Linked DNA regions of Homo sapiens. The protein of the gene in region 2 purifies or fractionates together with the protein of the main gene of each other region. This does not show direct contact. Each region holds a gene or a part of one and is shown on either strand. Other genes may lie near its edges.

What was found. The genes of interacting proteins can lie anywhere in the genome.
Region 1: the proteins of AP3S1 (region 2) and RABL6 purify together in Homo sapiens (affinity purification with mass spectrometry; 3 studies listed by BioGRID and IntAct, with this or other methods). This does not show direct contact.

Annotation. Positions count from the first base shown.
Region 1 is NC_000009.12:136,810,797-136,814,547, reverse strand, and holds part of RABL6 (rab-like protein 6), read right to left. Parts: intron 1,961-3,751; exon of another isoform or gene 922-1,960; intron 615-921; exon of another isoform or gene 373-614; intron 66-372; exon of another isoform or gene 1-65. UniProt on the Homo sapiens protein: May enhance cellular proliferation. May reduce growth inhibitory activity of CDKN2A.
Region 2 is NC_000005.10:115,844,909-115,848,659, reverse strand, and holds part of AP3S1 (AP-3 complex subunit sigma-1), read right to left. Parts: intron 1-3,751. UniProt on the Homo sapiens protein: Part of the AP-3 complex, an adaptor-related complex which is not clathrin-associated. The complex is associated with the Golgi region as well as more peripheral structures.

The sequences.
Region 1 (3,751 bases), on a different chromosome or scaffold from region 2:
TCTTTCAATCTTTGTTGGAAACCTGAACTTTAACAAGTCTGCTCCTGAGTTAAAAACTAGTATCCATGGGCCAGGCCTGGTGGCTCACGCCTGTAATCCCAGCACTTTGGGAGGCTGAGGTGGACAGATCACAAGGTCAGGAGTTTGAGACCAGCCTGGCCAACATAATGAAACCCTGTCTCTACTAAAAATACAAAAATTAGCCGGGCGTAGTGGTGCGTGCCTGTAGTCCCAGCTACTGGGGAGGCTGAGGCAGGAGAATCACTTGAACCCGGGAGGTGGAAGCTGCAGTGAGCACCATTGCACTCCAGCCTGGGTAACAGAGCAAGACCCTGTCTCGAAAAAGAAAGAAAAACAAAAACTAGTATCCATGATATTTTTGCTAAAAATGATCTTGCTGTTGTGGATGTCAGAATGGGTATGACAAGGAAATCTGACTATGTGGATTTTCAAGCTGCTGAAGACCTGGAAAGAGCCTTGGAACTCGCTGGTTTGAAAGACTTTGGCAATGAAATTAAACTAGAGAAACCAAAAGGAAAAGACAGTAAGAAAGAGCAAGATGTGAGAATACTTTTGGCTACAAATCTCCCTTACAAAGTCACTCAGGATGAATTACAAGTGTTTTGGCTGGGCGCAGTGGCGCAGTGGCTCACACCTGTAATCCCAGCACTTTGGGAGGCCAAGGCAGGCAGATCACGAGGTCAGGAGATCAAGACCATCCTGGCTAACACGGTGAAACCCTGTCTCTACTAAAAATACAAAAAATTAGCTGGGTGTGGTGACGGGTGCCTGTAGTCCCAGCTACTCGGGAGGCTGAGGCAGGAAAATGGCGCAAACTTGGGAGGTGGAGCTTGCAGTGAGCTGAGATCACGGCCACTGCACTCCAGCCTGGGCAACAGAGCGAGACTCTGGCTCAAAAAACAAAAAAGTGTTTGAAGATGCTGTGGAGATTGGATTAGTCAGCAAGGATGGGAAGAGTAAAGGGACTGCTTATATTGAGGTTAAGACAGAAGCTAATGCAGAGAAAACTTCTGAAGAAACGCAGGGAACAGAGATGGATGGCCGATCTATTTCCCTGCACTATCATGGAGAGAAAGGTCTAAATCAAGACTAGAGAGACCACTTGGAGGGGTGAATCAAAAACTCTGGTTTAAGCAACCTCTCCTACAGTGCAACAGAAGAAACTCTTCAGAAAGAATCTGAGACAAGGCAACTTTTATCAAAGTGCCCCAGAACCAAAATGGCAAATCTAAAGGGTGTGCATGCACTTACAGTTCGCTTCATTTGAAGATGATAAAGCAGCTTTAAATTCCTGTAATAAAAGGGAAACTGGGGGCAGGGCAATCAGGCTGGAGTTGCAAGGACCACCTGATGCCAGGAGCCAGCCATCTAAAACTGTCTGTCAAAGGCCTGTCTGAGGACACCACTGAAGAGGCTTTAGTCATTCGACAGCTTTGTTGGGCAAGGGTAGTCACCAACCAGGAAACCGGGTGCCCCAAAGGCTTTGGCTCTGTAGATGGCAACAGTGAGGAGGATGCCAAAAGCGCCAAGGAGGCCGCGGAAGATGGTGAAATTGAGGGAAACAAAGGTAACTTGGACTGGGCCAAACCTAAGGGCGAAGGTGGCTTTGGGGTTGTGATGGAGGTAGAGGAAGCTTTGGAGGATGAGGTGGTGGCAGAAGCCAGGAAGGCTTTGGTGGGCGAGGCAGCTTCTGGGGAGGCAGAGGTGACCACAAGCCACAAGGAAAGAAGACAAAGTTTGAACGGCTTCTGTCCCTTTGTCTTTCCCTCTCCCATTTGAAAGAAAGGACGCTGGGGTTTTTATTCCGTTACCTGATCAATGACAGAGCTCTCTGAGGACATTCCAAGACAGTCTACAGTCCTGTGGTCTCCTTGGAAATTCGTATAGACAACATTTCAAGGGTAATACCTTCCTTGTTTGTTTTGACTGGATATTCATATAAACTTTTCTTTCTTTTCTTTTTTTTTTAAGACGAAGTCTCACTCTGTCGCCCAGGCTGGAGCGCAGTGGTGTGATCTTGGCTCACGGCAACCTCTGCCTCCCGGGTTCAAGCGATTCTCCTGCCTCAGCCTCCCGAGTAGCTGGGATTACAGGCATACGCCACCACACCTGGCTAATTTTCATATTTTCAGTAGAGATGAGTTTCATCATGTTGGCCAGGTTGGTCTTGAACTCCTGACCTCATGTAATCCGCCCACCTCAGCCTCCCAAAGTGCTGGGATTACAGGTGTGAGCCACCGTGCCCGGCCTGCTAAGTCCCATTTCTAAATTCGCACCAGTGTCTACTCAGAGAGGACTCTGGTTGTCCGAGCTCCTGGGCCAGGCCAGTATCAGAGCTGCACAATAATGCTCACTCAGGAGCAACTCCACAGAAAAATTCTGCACCAAATACAACTGATATTTTGTGTCCAGTCACAGTAGAAAGGGACAGACCAACTCAGGCAACAATCTTTCTTCCAAATAATTTCAAATAATTTTCCTAATAATTTTATATGCAAATAATTTCAAAATTGTGTAAACCAAAATTAAAATCCCAAGGCCTGCCAACCATCTGAATGGACTTCCTCTTCTAGGCCAGGGCCATCCAAATTTCATCTGAAAGACTGGTTCAGGCCATTATGGGAAGAGGGGAGTCAGACAGGCCTCATTGTGGCCTCCTCCCTTCTGGAATTCAGGAAAAGCTCACCAGCATTTAACATCAACACTGACTTTAAGTCTGATAAGAAACATAATCTGGCCAGGCGCGGTGGCTCACGCCTGTAATCCCAGCACTTTGGGAGGCCAAGGGGTTCGGACTGCTTGAGTAGAGGGGTCTGAGCCCAGCTGGGCAACGTGGTGAAACCCTGTCTCTCTAAAAAATACCAAAATTAGCTGGGTGTGGTGGTGCAATTGTTTTTTTTTTTTTTTTTGAGACAGGGTCTGACTCTGTCACCCAGGCTGGAGTGCAGTGGCACAATCTCAGCTCACTGTAACTTCTGCCACTTGGGCTCAAGCGATTCTCCCGCCTCAGCCTCCTGAGTAGCTGGGATTACAGGCACCCACCATCACACCCGGTTAATTTTTATAGTTTTAGTAGAGACGGGGTTTCGACATGTTGGCCAGGCTGGTCTTGAACTCCTGGCCTCAGGTTGTCCGCCTGCCTCGGCCTCTCAATGTGCTGAGATTACAGGCGTGAGCCACCGCGCCCGGCAAAAAAACACAATTTTTTTAAACTACCTCCGACCTGGAAGCCCCCACTTCAAGTTGTCCCGCCTTTGTGGACCAAATCAACATATATCTTAAATGTATTTGATTACTGTCTCATGTCTAAAATGTATAAAACCAAGCTGTGCCCTCCACCTTGGGCACATGTCCTCAGGGTCACCTGAGGGCTATGTCACGAGCCATGGTCACTCATATTCAGCTCAAAAATAAATCTCTTCAAATATTTGACAGAGTTTGACTTTTTCATCCATTATGGTCCAATGTCTCATTCGAGTTTTTATTCTAAAACCAGTGGGTGTCCCACACGTCTACCGGGACCACTAGCAACTCCGAGCAAATGCAGGGCCCAGGAGGAGAGCCCAGACTCCTGGAAACCCGCAGCAGTTCCCAGAAACTCTCACCCCCAAAACCCTCGACTCTGTCTTGATCACATTGCTGGTCTGTTACGCTCTGTAAAATATTTGAGAAAATAAATACCAGAAAGCCGGGCATGGTGGCTTACGCCTGTAATCCCAGCACTTTGAGA
Region 2 (3,751 bases):
AGGTACAAAAAAGACTAAGTGCTAAAGGTAAGAATGAACTCTTGACTTTCAAACAAAAATTAGCAAAGATTTCCTTTCAGAACGAAAAAGACAAGGACACTGATAACCTCAGGTTACACAGGTAAGTTTAATTTTATACAAAAGAAAGATATATACACATTTCTTAGGACATGCAAATTATTAATGTGCTATTACCATATACTGTCTTTTTTAAATTTTAACAAGAGAGTGGCTGAACATTAACATATTCAGTTATCTTAAAGCCACAATGTTTAATAAATCCATCATCAGCTTCAAAGCATTTATTTGTGTTATTAATGTCTAAAAGGTATATCCTATTCACTGGGACATTCTGAAAAGAAAAATAAAGACCGGGGGGAAATACACTAAGTGTTAATAATTATCTGTGTGTGGTAAAATCAAGAATGACCTTAGTGGCCTTAATATTTAATTTTCCACAGTCACAAAAAAAGAAACTTACTTAAAATTGAAAACAACTTTGCTAAAGAATATAATATAGGTACGTCACGTAAGGCCTTCTTTTAGAAAAGCCATGAAATGACCTATAACATTGTCCTATTTATAACACTTACCTCATAACCAAAAATCATTTTAACTTTGAAGACTTTATTTCCTCCTTTACAATTAAATATTCAAAAGGTTTAGTCTTAATTTTTAAAAAGCAAGTTTTCCAGCATACTCCACATAAAAACTGTGAACGTATAAGCATTTGGGTTTTTCGAGGATACTTTGATATAAGGAAAACCTGAAATTAAGATCTATTGTGACACAGGTTCAGTATTGCATATTACAAGGAACTATTCCTGATATTAACAACCTCAGAAGCAATCTAAAATTTCAGAAAACTAATATATATTAAAAGCTAATAAAGAGGGAATAGTGGTGATAGACATGTTAGTTAGCTTGATTTACCCATTTCACAATATATACATATACAAAAATAACATGTACACGGTAAATATATGTAATTTTTTTTTGTCATCTATACCTCAATAAAAACATATATTTTTTTAAATTTGTTGAGACAGGGTCTCCTCTGTCACCCAGGCTGGAGCGCAATGGCGCAATCTCAGCTCATTGCAGCCTTGATCTCCGGAGCTCAGTGATCCTCTCACCTCAGCCACCTAAGCAGCTAAGACTATAGGTGTGTGCTAACATGACTCACTAATTTTTGTATTTTTGGCATAGAGACAGGGTTTTGCCACGTTGCCCAGGCTTGTCTTGAACTCCTGGGCTCAAACAATCCTCCCATCTAGGCCTCCCAACGTGCTGGGATTACAGGCATGAGCCACTGTACCCGGCCATAAAAATAAATATTTTTTTAAAAGTTTAGAAGAAGAAATAGCAGACCCTTGTTTGCCTACCCACCATCCACTCCTTTCTTTCATCTTTCCAACAGAATATCCATTTTATTCCCGTTTTCACTCTCATCTTCAGCTCCAATCCAAAGTTGGATGTTGATTAGGGTAAGAATATTGGTCTTGGGTGGGTCTAACCAGAATGAAGGGAAAGACACAGTCCAGGACTGCAGAAACAGATGGTTGTCTCTTTCTGAATTGAACTGATTACCAAAGGAGAAAAACAGCCTTTGGATAATAGTAATTTTGTGATGAGTAAAGCAGAGAAAGAGAAAGAAATTGGATCTACAATAAAGTCATTGATTTGCTGAATCAAATACTTTTGGAATCGGTCTACTACTCTGCACTTCCTATAATGTACCTAACATAGTTCTTTCCAAGCACTTGAGTCAGGCTACATAAAACCCAATTTATGCAGACAAACGCATTATAACTAATATGGAAGGAAACCAAATCGTATGGAATTTTCTTCTTAACAAAAAGCTGAAATGCCGTGTGTTAGTATGTGTTAACACCCTCATACTCAGGAGTGTTGATAATTCTATCTTGATCACAGACATAAGTTTAATTATCCCATCTGCCACAACGTCTTAATAGTCACTAAAAAAAGACATGAGTGAACATGGATGGATCTTTTTAAGGGATATTTTTAAAAGAAAAAAGAAGTTATCTATACTTTCAACACTTTGTATTTTTATGTTAAGATTTAAAAAAAAAAAAAAAAACGAGAAAGAAGAATCTTAGAGTTCCTCCTAAGGCTTGCATTTGGTTAACAGTTTAATTAAATACAGTTTATTAAAAAAATTGAGGCAACTCATATAGGTTAATTTGAAATTTTTCCTGCTTGCACTTAATATGTGTGTGGTGTGTACACACACATGCATACATACACACAGTATTTTATATCTGAAGAAACAACTAAGATAATTCACACAAAAGAAAGACATTTCCACTTTATAAAAGTAATTCACAGGCCAGGCATGGTGGCTCAGATCTGTCATCCCAGCACTTTGGGAAGCCAAAGCTGGAGGAGTGTTTGAGGCCAGGAGGTTAAGACCAGCCTGAGCAACATAGTGAGACCTTTTCTCTATAAAAAAAGAAAAATTTTTTAAAAGTAATTCACCAGAGGATACACTATGGAATCACAACCGAAGGGATTTTTTTGTTTGATAGCTATGTAAAAATATATTTAGTTTATAAAATATAAGTCTCATTAGTTATTTACAGTAATGCACAAATACTGTCAGGTAAGTATTAAAAGACTAAAGGTTACTGTTGTCAAGTCGCTGAAGCTAAGTATCAACTTAAAAAGACAAACCAAGCAAAACATTTGAATTTGTGCAGTCATAGACCAAGGATATAGAAGGCAAAAACGAAAAGGGATGCATTTTGAGTCCAGACTTGAATTTTTTTTTTTTTTTTTTTTTTTTTTTTTTTTTTTTTTGAGATGGAGTCTCACTCTGTCACCCAGGCTGGAATGCAGTGGCACGATCTCAGCTCACTGCATTCTCCACCTCCCCAGGTTCAAGCAATTCTCCTATCTCAGCCTCGAGCGAGTAGCTGCACTTATAGGCGTGCGCTACCATGCCTGGCTAATTTTTGTATTTTTAGTAGAGATGGGGTTTCACCATGTTGGCCACACTGGTCTTGAACTCTTGACCTCAGGTGATCCGCCTGCCTTGGCCTCCCAAAGTGCTGAGATTACAGGCATGAGCCATGGCACCCAGCCCACACTTGAATTCGTAATGTCTGACTCTAGCAGAATGAACCAAAACTTCTGTTTAGCAAAACAGGTGCGCAACTTCCTATTTCTCACATATAACAGCTTGGAGCCACAATCGAATCTAACAATCTATTACAGCATGAAATGGAAATGTGCACTGTTAAAGGGCAGAGATGAATATGTAAGTTGTTATATTTGAGGGAGATAAATGAGGAATGAAAATGAAGTGCAGTAGGATAAACTTGTTGGCAAATGGTTAAACATTTTTTAAACTGCTCAGTGTTAAACGATTACTGTTGGACTCAAACCTCAGCATCCTGCCAGTATATGGAATTGTTAGCTCAGTCACACCTCTAGATATTGTTTAATAAATTAAACTCAATATTTTTATTCATATTGGACATATACTTCTTAGAGACCCCTTAAAACAGAAACAGCTGAGTAACACATATGCCATCATTACTTTTATGCTAAAGGCAGAGATTCTTAAAACCTCTAGTTAGTGAAGGACTACATTTTAAGAGATAGAAGGAAACTCAGCAAGTTAACTAATCCCAACTCTATCCCAAGCTAGGAGATTCTAAATAAATGCATTTAGCAAAGAGTTAGAGAGTTTTCTATGTTCAAGACTCAGTGTTGACTGCTTAGA